Regions from separate parts of the Homo sapiens genome. Here region 2 is linked to region 1. A link means that fine-mapping ties the variant in region 1 to the expression of a gene that starts in the linked region. Tissue or cell type: amygdala. Region 1 holds a variant in brackets; the other region holds the start of a gene. All regions are shown on one strand. Distances are from middle to middle.

Region 1 (5,552 bases):
TGCTGAAGGTGTGTCCTCTTGCATACGTTTTATTTCTCCTGACTTATGTGTTTTGAAACACTTTCCAGTTAATATCATGATCTCACTTGATTACATTGTCTTCATTAAATAACTTGTCTCATGACTTGACATTCTAAAAAAAATTAGCATGGCATCCTTTAAAAAAAAATTGTTGATTTACCTCAGCAATTGTTATTTTTAAGTTGGCTCTATTTTAATTACATTGCATGTAATCATATTGCTGAGGGTTCAGAATACATCATTCTAGACAGTTAATAGTTCTCCACCTAGCTACAGTACATTACAACCAACTGGGAAGCTTAAAAAGAAAGTTCCTAAGACCAAATCAAAATCTCTGAGGGTAGGACTCATCAGTGTTTTTAAAACCTCCTCAGCTGATTTCAGTGTGTGTCACTAGTTTTTGTTTTTGTTTTTGTTTTTGTTTTTGTTTTTATTCATCCCTGTGGGTATAAAGTGGTAACTCAATGTGATTTTTATTTGCACTTCCCTAATGACAAATGGTATGGAGCATCTTTTCATATGCTTATTGACCATATGTATATCTTCTTTGTAAAAGTATTCATTCAAATCTTTTGCCCACTTTAAATTGGGCAATTTGTCTTTTAACTGTTAAATTATAAGAACTATTTATACATTCTGGATATAAGTCACTTATCAGATATATGATTTGCAAATATTTTCTCCCATTTCGTAGTTTGTCTTTTTACTTTCTTCACTTGATCTTAGCCAAAAGGCTGAGAAGCGAGTGTCTTTTTTATTTTCTTAAAGGTAACTTTGAGGCACAAAATTTTTTATTTTAATTAGGTCCAATGTGTGTGTTTTTCTTTTGTCATTTGTGCTTTTAGTGTCATATCTAAGAAACAATTGTCTAATCCAAGGTCGCAATTTGTCTAATCCAAGGTCACAATTTGTCTAATCCAAGGTCACAAAGATTTACTCCTATGTTTTCTTCTAAGAGTTTTAGCATTTATATTTAGGTGTGTAATCAACTTTGAGTTAATATGTGTTATGTTATGAGTTAGAATTTTGCATTTAGATAACTAGTTGTCCCAGCACTATTCATAGAAAAGACCATTTTCTCCATTGAATTTTCTTGGCACCTTTGTCAAAAAGCAATTGAACATAAATGTAGTAGTATATTTATGGTTTTTCAGTTCTGTTCTACTGATCTGTATGTCAATCCTTCTCTCAGTACCATGAAATCTTGATATGCAGATATTTGTATAATTGTTGTGTCTTTCTCATTGATTATTTTGTCATTATAACATGCTCTGTTTTGCCTGTGGTAAAAATTTTTCACTTACAGTATACTTTGTCTGATGTTAACATAGATACTCCACATCATTTTTTATTGCTATCTGTATGGCATATCTTCTTTCATCCTTTTCTTTCATCTTATTTGTGTCCTTGAAACTAAATTACGTCTCTTAAACATAACAGTTGATTCATATTTGTTTGTTTTTATCCATTCTGCTAATTTTGCCTTTTGATTAGTCAGTTTACATTTATTGCAGTTTTGGATAAGGTAAGATATGTGCCTGCCGTTTTAAAATATAAGATATGCCATGTGAAAGACACAGTTTTATTTATATCTTTATCTTATAATAACTTTATAAGATAATATGTTTTATATAACATAACATTATATTAAAATAAAACATTTATAATAGCTGACAAAATCTTTGTCTAGTAAGTCCAACATTTAAGCTTCCTCAGGGTTAGTTTATGTTGACTGCTTTTATTTCTGTATATGGGCAATATTTTCCGGGTTTCTTATATGTCTCATAAGTTTTTATTGAAAAATGGACAATTTAAATTATATAATGTGGAAACTCTGCAAATCAAATGTCCCCCTTTCCTCATCAGGATTTTTTATTATTGTGTTGCTATTTGTTTGTTTAGTAACTTTCCTTGACTAATTTGTAAAGTCCATAATAAGCCTTTGTTGAGTGTGAGCACTGAAATCCCTGCTCAGTTACATTAGTGGTCAGGTAATGATTAGACAGAGATTTTCTTAAGTGCCTTGAACTAATAAGTCTTCCAGCCTTTACTGAGGACCACTTTGGGTGTGTTGAGGCACATCTTCAGTGTTCCAGTAGTTTAAAACTCTGCCCTTCATTTTTGTACTTTCTGCTTGTGTAGAGCTTCAAGGTTAGCCAAACATGAGAGATGACGAATTTCTCAGGTCTTTCCTGGGCATGTGCACAACCTTGTACATATGTACAGCCATCTAGATAACCAGGAATATGTCAGTGATTTGCAAGCCCCCTAGAAATCTCATTCTCCAGATTTGCCTTTTAAGATTTTTGTCAGCCTCCAGCTTCTCCCAACTCATATGAGCACCTCAGACAGCTACAATGTTAAATAATTGTTGCTGATTTTTTTTTTTTTTTGGAAAATGCCCTGGGGATAAAGCTGTTTGCACTAAGCTTTAAGTCAAGCTAAATAAAGACAAACCTTGTGAACAGGGATTTTCCATGGGGTTCTAGATAGGTCAAGTAGTGACAATTCTCTGGTGTTGAGGCTTTTAGGGGGCTCCAAAACTGCTCTGCCCATCCAGTGGCTGCTAGGCTGCTGGTTTTAACAGCTACCATGGTTGCAAGGTTGTCAATTTTCAAGGCTCCTAAGGACCTAGGAAGACAGGGAGGTGAGTAGGACAAGTTAAAAAGCCAGAAATACCACTGGTCTTTTTTCCTTTTTTTTTTTGTTGTTTTTTTAATACATGCTCCTCAAATAGTTCCAAGCTTTTGGTAAATTTTGAAAGCTCCGAAAAAAGTGTATTTCACAGTATTCTCATTGCTTTTACGGAAGAACAGATTTCAGGGATCTATACTCCACTGTTGCAGAAGTGCTTGGTCCACTATATATATATACATTTTTAAAGATTTCCACATGCATCTACTACGAAGCTGTGTCCAGAATTTATTCCTTCCAGCGGGTTCTTGGTCTCGCTGACTTCAAGAATGAAGCCGCGGACCTTCACAGTGAGTGTTACAGCTCATAAAGGTAATGCGGACCCAAAGAGTGAGCAGCAGCAAGATTTATTGTGAAGAGCAAAAGAACAAAGCTTCTGCAATGTGGAAGGGGACCCAAG[C/T]GGGTTGCCGCTACTGGCTTGGGTGGCCAGCTTTTATTCCCTTATTTTATTTTATTCCAGCTTTTATTCCCTTATTTGGCCCCTCCCACATCCATTGGTCCCTTTTACAGAGCGCTGATTGGTCCATTTTACAGAGTGCTGATTGGTGCGTTTACAATCCTTTAGCTAGACACAGAGCACTGACTGGTGCGATTTTACAGAGTGCTGGTTGGTGCATTTACAATCCTTTAGCTAGACACAGAGCCCTGATTGGTGCATTTACAATCCTTTAGCTAGACACAAAAGTTCTCCAAGTCCACATCCAACCCAGAAGATCAGCTGGCTTCACCTCTCAAAGCCCAGACTGAGAATGACAGTATAAGTCTCTTAACCCTCTAGTCCTTCATAGGCCTTCTAAAATCCCAAATAGTCATGTAAGTTTTAATCTGAGAATCAAACACTCACAATTCTTTAGTGCTTTAGAAAAGTGACATGTATATTTTCATATTAATAAGCTGTTAAATACCTTTTCTACCTTCCTTGCCTACTAAATCTAACCTTTTTCCTTTATTCCTATATGCAATTATATTTATTTTTAATTTGTTATTGTATTTATCAATGAGGATGAAAACATTAATATGGGTGGGCTATGTCATTCTTATCCTAAATGCATGTGTGTTTTCTTCTACCCCATATTACTGCTTACTATCTCTCACACACTCACATGCACACAACCAGTTGCATCTATGAAAAATGTCTTAGTCTCCGCTTAGAATTTTATCTTCATTAATTTAATATTGTGAACCGATCCACTTGTCCCAGAATGTCTGTGCTTCGCTTCTCTACCAAACAAGAATAATAGTACTCGGAAAGTGGGCTGGTTTTTTTTATTTGTTATAAAATGAAGAGGCACTTTGTGTAACGTAATCTTTTTTAAGATGTTGGCATTTTCTCATTGCTAGGATTATGCTTTTAAATAAGTATGCCTTGAACTGAGAAATGTTGCATTAAAATTATATTACTGAGGCCAGATGCAGTGGCTTATGCCTGTAATTTCAGCACTTTGGGAGGTGGAGGTGGGAGGATTGCTTGAGCCCGGTAGTTCAAGACCGACTGGGGCAACACAGTGAGGACTCATCCTACAAAAAATAAAAAAATTAGTCAGATGTGGTGGCACACCTATGTGGTCCCAGCTACTCTGGAGGCTGAGACAGGAGGATCTCTTGAGCCCAAGAAGTCGAGGCTGCAGTGAGCAGTGATCATGCCACTGTACTCCAGCCTGGGTGACAGAGTGAGACCCTATCTCAAAACAACAGTAGCAACAAAGAATTACGTTACTGAGAAAAGCACCCTGATTTTGTCTCCCATTTTAGATGAGGAACATACCACTGAACACACGCCGAACCACCATGTGCCTCAGCCCCCACAAGCAGTGTTCCCAGCATGCATCTGTGCAGCAGTACTTCCCATTGTTCATCTGATGGAGGATGGTGAGGTGCGGGAAGATGGAGTAGCAGGTACAGTTTTGAACAGTCAGATCATCAGTGACATTCTTAAGCTGTTTATCTGATAGAAGACAGTAGGTTGCTCTTAAACACATTATCTACTGGCCACATGTTGAACTGTTTTATGCACATATTATAATTACAGATTTGTAACATACTGCGCTAACAGTATCACTCTCTCCACCTCCTTCTCCCTCTACCTTTATGGCCAAAAAAATTGCATTTAAAATAGGTAATTGGGTCCAGGAGCATTGTTCGTGACCAGAGAACAGAACAACACAATAATTATTTAGCCACATAGAAATCAAACCTTAGAAATCTTAGCTATTAGCTTGACACCACTAATACCATCTCTCTTACGTGATTACCTTTCCTGACGTGCTAACTACCTAAAAAGAATAATTGCAAAATGAAACGATAAACTAAGGGAAAAGATGAGTAACATTTGTGACAGACAAAGGTTAATTTCTTAACGTTACATTTTAAAAAGCTCTTATAACTCACTAATAATTTTTTAAAACCCCATTAGAAAACTGGGCAAAGGATATCAGCAGGCAATCCAATGGCCAGTAACACCTGGAGACAACATCGTTGTTTAAAACTGTAATAAATCTTACATTTCAGCCAGAAAGTCGGCAAATATTACTTTAAATGAAAATATCTATTGCTGGTGAAAAAGCAGGGGAAAGAGCATCCTCATACTTTGCTGATGAAGTATAAAACTCTGTACAAGCATTCTAGAACAGAGTTTCATGATATGTATCAAAAACCTTAAAAGTGTGAAAAGCTTTTGACACAGATTTGGCTTCTAGCAATTTCCTAAGACAATCATGAGGGCTGTATAAAGGACATTGTACACTGATCATTATTTAAAATAAAAAATATTTAGAAAGACTTTAAATCCCTAACAATAAGCAATTAGTTAATCATAGTACCTCCATATGATAACATTC
Region 2 (5,000 bases), 400 kb after region 1:
GAGGATGAACAAAATTGACTATTAGAACCCATTCTGAAAAGTTAATGGCTTTGGCAGTACTTAGTTGAAGGAAGAAAAAGGTGGCTTAAAAGCAATTTTAATTAATAAAATGTTGCTATTAAGAGAATAGTCGTCAGCTGTTCTTTATATGAAACTAACAGGGATGAGTGAAATAATTTTCGGTTAAAAATAAATAACTTTCTAACTGGGGATTATGAGGTACTCCAAAAATATTTTAAAATGTAAACTGTTTCCTTTTAAGAATAAATGGGTGTTTAAGTGCAAACTTGATAAAGGACTGGGACTGGATAATAAAGATGATTTTTTAAAATGTTTACACTCCTTTCGTCACTAAGTTTTTAACTAGTATTGTTTCTTTAACAGTTAATAAATCCAATACTTGTGTAAGTGAAGACTGGTATTTTTCTTCTTTTGCTCTCAGAGTTACCTTGTTAGAGGTCATGATATATCCAGGGCCAAGCTGGAACCAGTGCTCCGGAATCTTGTTTTATGAAGCAGATAGTAAGTCATGTAGAAATTGAGTCAGCGTGATTCTTTACATGGTTAACATGCTGCTTCCCCTGGAGGTGGGGGTGTAGGATTTCTCAAGGAAGGACATTTATAGTGATTAAAATTGCTCAGAGATTGCTTCACTGGGTAATTCTGATGCTGTAGTATGTGATTCTGGCAAGAGAGAGGGAGTATGAAAGGGACAGAAAATCCCAGACCATGGCAAGAAAGGGCACACGATGCAGAGACTACCTCAAGAAAAGGGGCTGTGGCAGTAAGAAAACAGTAACCGAATGGTCAGACTATTGATCAGAAATCCTTCTTGGTTGCCTCCTGAGAAGGAATTGAGAGCATAAATGTCCAAGGGCAATGACTGCCCATTAACTCACCATCATCCTACAATATTTAGCATAGTTCCAAGAACAAACTGGCAAAAGAGATTTTGGCAGCTGATATTTTTCTGGGAAATTAAGTGGAAAGCACCCTCCAGGACAAAAAGGCCAAGAATAAATACTAAACATGTGCATATCTTAAAAGCCAACAATTTCACTCATAGTCATGTGTCCCCCACAAATGTGTATGTATATGCATAAAGATGTACATAGGTTGGGCACGGTGGCTCACGCCTGTAATCCCAGCACTTTGGGAGGCTGAGGTGGGTGGATCACCTGAGGTCAGGAGTTCGAGGTCAGCCTGACCAACATGGCAAAACCCTGTCTCTATTAAAAATACAAAAATTTAGCGAGGTGTGGTGGTGGGCACCTATAATCCCAGCTACTTGGGAGGCTGAGGCAGGAGAATTGCTTGAACCCGGGAGGCAGAAGTCACAGTGAGCTGAGATCACACCATTGCACTCCAGCCTGGGCAACAAGAGCAAGACTCTGTCTCAAAAAAAATGTACATAAACATTTTTAGCAATGATATTCATAATTGCACAAAACTGGAAACAACCCAAATGCCCATTAGCAATAAAATGGATAGAATATCATATATCCTTGTGATGGAACACTACACAGCAATAAGAATGAACAAACTACAGGTACATGTAATAAGATAGATCAGTGTCACACAGTGTTATGGTTCCATTTATATAAAGTTCAAGACCAAGAGAAACTACCTGATGGTATTCGAAGACAGGATAGTAGTAGAGAGGAGTGTTGGGTAGTGGAGAGGAAGGTCAGGTAGTGAAGGAGCTGGTGTTTACATGAATTTGTTGAAGGAGCTGGTGGTTACATGAATTTGTTCACTTTGTGATAATTCATCAAGTTGTACACTTAAGATTTCTGCATTTTTCCAAATGTATGTTATGCTTTAATACAAAGTTTGATAGGGAGAAGAAATAATACTGCCTTCCAAAGTAAAATGAATGACATTGGGTGGGATAAAAAAAACAGAGGGACCCTGTGTCAAGCCTGTCTTAGGGTCTTCAGACAGCATGAGTCTCGCTGTCTCCATTTTGAAGATGGGCAACAACTGCAGGGATAAGAATAGCCCATGGCTGACAGTGCATTTGCTTCTACTTGTCCTGGTCAAGGTTTTCTAATTCGGGCCCAAGAGAGTATTCATGTCTCCAGGAGGCCACCCTATGGCACGTTAGGCATTCTTGAGAGACTGGCGGCCTCAGTCCTTGTGTTTGGAGCAGTTCTGCTAGAGGAGGAAACAGCACAAAGGGCACTCTTATGCTGCTGTAAACCAGTGCCAGGATTTTTAAAATGTGAGACACCTGTTACCCTGTAAGTATTAATTTCAACTTGAGGTCTCTAGCTTTTTAATTTGCTGGATACATTCTTTTATATGAAATGTGATGGGCATTTCTGACGTGGAAGAAATTGGGACCAGTAAAGCCGGGAAGAAAGCAAAATGGGGTAGCAGGGGCCCTTTTCTCAGCTTCTAATGAAATATTTGTAGTCAAGACCAAGCACACATATTGATTCTCATCAAGTGTGAAATCGTTGGCGGCCCTGGAGGTGAGCCCCACGGGACCATTTGTACCGCACTCTTTCAAATGAACAGATTAAATCTCTCGTAAGATGCTGTTTTTGACACACTCGTACTGCATATATTAAAATCCTCCCTGGTGCCCTTTTGGCGGTTAGGATTCAGGTAGTTCCAGTGCATCACAGCCTGTGTACCAGCTGGAAAGGATATTTTTTTTTTCTTCCCTGGAATGTGTAAAGGAAGAATTATATTGCTGTTTGTTGAAAGAGACTATATGTCTCGCAAGTCCCACTTCAATAATCTTCTAGAAGCAAGAATGAATTTGGGATTGGAAAGGGCATTACAACATGGCTAAATAAATAGCAAGGGGTCTCTCAACACCTGGTTAGCCTGCAATGTTACAATATGACTTCTAGGTCTTACATTTCAGTCTCTTTCTTCAGCAAACAGAGTCTGAAAGGTCTTACACAAAGACAGAATTTTAAGTCTGAACACTCAAGAAATGTGGTCTTCACACTCTAAAGCTGTCACTAATTCCTTGAGAAGCACCAGAAACTTTCTGACTAAACCTTTTTATGTCTTCAATAATGGTTAAATCCAATATACCTTAGGGTTTCCCTCAGATTTAGTCTTCATATTCTTTAGCTTTTGCTAAAGAATTTTAGCAAAATTTCTTATTTTGCATTTCTCTAGCTTCATGACTGGGCTGTCATCATAGGTATATAAGACCATGTACAGGGCTGTGCATTAATATTGCAAGTCTGGAAATTCCAGATATCTTGGCAAAGGGAGAAACAACTTGTGGTTGGAGCTTGGAGGATGAGGAACCAACAAGTTCTGAGTCCTCATGTCTTATGCTTAGGCTGATTCCATTTCTTCCCTCAAATTGTAAATATTTATTTAGGTGTAAAGGAGAGGGCCTATCTAAAGCAGACTGGTGTGTGAGTAGAGTTATTTTCATAGTGTGTCCTCTCCCAGTGATTTATGTTTCCTAGAATATTGATGAAAAATGGATGAGCTCCCGCAACATCTCCTGCCACTCTCCCCCTCACATATTGGACTACAGACATTCTGGCCTTCTTCAGTTCATTCTTTAGTATGATATGCTGTTCTTTCTTCCTGAATTGTTCTTCTAATCTTTCTTTGAATGAATGTTTTTATTCCCTTTCAAGTCTTACCTTAGAAGTAAGTCCTCTCTTCAGAAGGGTCTTACTTATCACCCTATCTAAAGTAGGTTCCACTCCTCTCATCCCATATTGCAATACTTCATTTGGTGGACTCATAGCTTATAATAATTGAATCATTTATTGATTATTGTCCTCACTTAGACTATAAATTCCATGAGACAGTGCTCATGGTTATATTGTTTACTGAATTGATTCTACCTAAGTGTCTATCAACAGAGAAATGGATGTTTGGATAGTGCTATTGTCCTATTGCCATTGTGACAAGGGCTCAGATAAACATGCAAGTGCACATATTCATGTACTGATTTCTTTTTCCTTTGGATAAATACTCAGAAGTAGGATTGCTGGATTGTATGGTAGTTCTATTTTTTGGTTTTTAAAGAAATCGTCATACTATTTTTCATAGTGGTTGTACTAATTTACCTTCCCATCAACAGTGTTTAAGAGTTTCCTTTTCTCTGCATTCTCACCAGAATCTGATATTTTTCATCTTTTTAATGACAGCCATTCTAACTGGAGTAAGATGATATCTCATTGTGGTTTCCATTTGCATTTCTCTGATGCATAGTGATGTTGGGTATTTTTTCATATACCATTTGTATATGGCCATTTGTGTGCCTTACTTTCAGAAATATCTGTTCATATCCTTTGCCCACTTTTTAATATGATTATTTGTGGGGTTTTTTTTGGTTGTTGAATTGTTTGAGTTCCTTGATATTCTGGATATTAATGCCTTGTTGGATGAATAGCTTACAAATATTTTCTCCCATTTTACAGGTTGTCTTTTCACTCTCTTGGTTGTTTCTTTTGATATGCAGAAGCTTTTTGGTTTAATATGCTACCATTTGTCTATTTTAGTTTTTGTTGCCTGTGATTTTGAGGTCTTAGGTGTAAGATCTTTGCCCGGACCAATGTACTGAAGAGTTTTCCCTCTGTTTTCTTCTAGTAGTTTTATAGTTTTAAGTGTTTAAGTCTATAATGTACCTTGAATTAATATGTGATGTAGTGAAGATAGGGGCTTAGATAGAAGATACCTATATTCTTCTGCATGTAGATATCCAAATTTCCCATCACCATTAATTGAAGATACTGTCATTTCCCCAATGGATGTTCTTGGCACATTTGTCAAAAATCAGTAGGCTGTAAATACATGGATTTATTTCTGGATTCTCTATTTTTTTTTTTCTTTCCTGAGAGAGAGTCTTGCTCTGTTGCCCAGGCTGGAGTACAGAGGCAAATCTCAGCTCACTGCAACCTTCGTCTCATAGGTTTAAGCGATTCTCCTGCCTCTCCCTCCTGAGTAGCTGGGATTACAGGTGCATACCACCATGCCTGGCTAATTTTTTGTATTTTTAGTAGAGACGG

Evidence for each region. PIP is the estimated chance that this variant, and not a neighbour inherited with it, causes the effect. A credible set is the group of variants that fine-mapping cannot tell apart.
Region 2: LANCL1-AS1 starts here. The variant in region 1 is the best candidate, but not a certain one, in a credible set for the expression of LANCL1-AS1 in amygdala (GTEx, PIP 0.59).

The regions. Positions count from the first base shown.
Region 1 is chr2:209,922,376-209,927,927 of GRCh38, forward strand. It overlaps UNC80 (unc-80 subunit of NALCN channel complex), which reads left to right. Exons shown (of 65, transcript NM_001371986.1): 35 at 1-8; 36 at 4,468-4,611. Among named protein-coding and RNA genes, the nearest start is that of RPE, 77 kb to the right of the region's middle. The variant C/T (reference allele first, on the strand shown) is at 3,116.
Region 2 is chr2:210,322,592-210,327,591 of GRCh38, forward strand. It overlaps LANCL1-AS1 (LANCL1 antisense RNA 1), which reads left to right and starts at 2,121. Exons shown (of 5, transcript NR_110606.1): 1 at 2,121-2,243.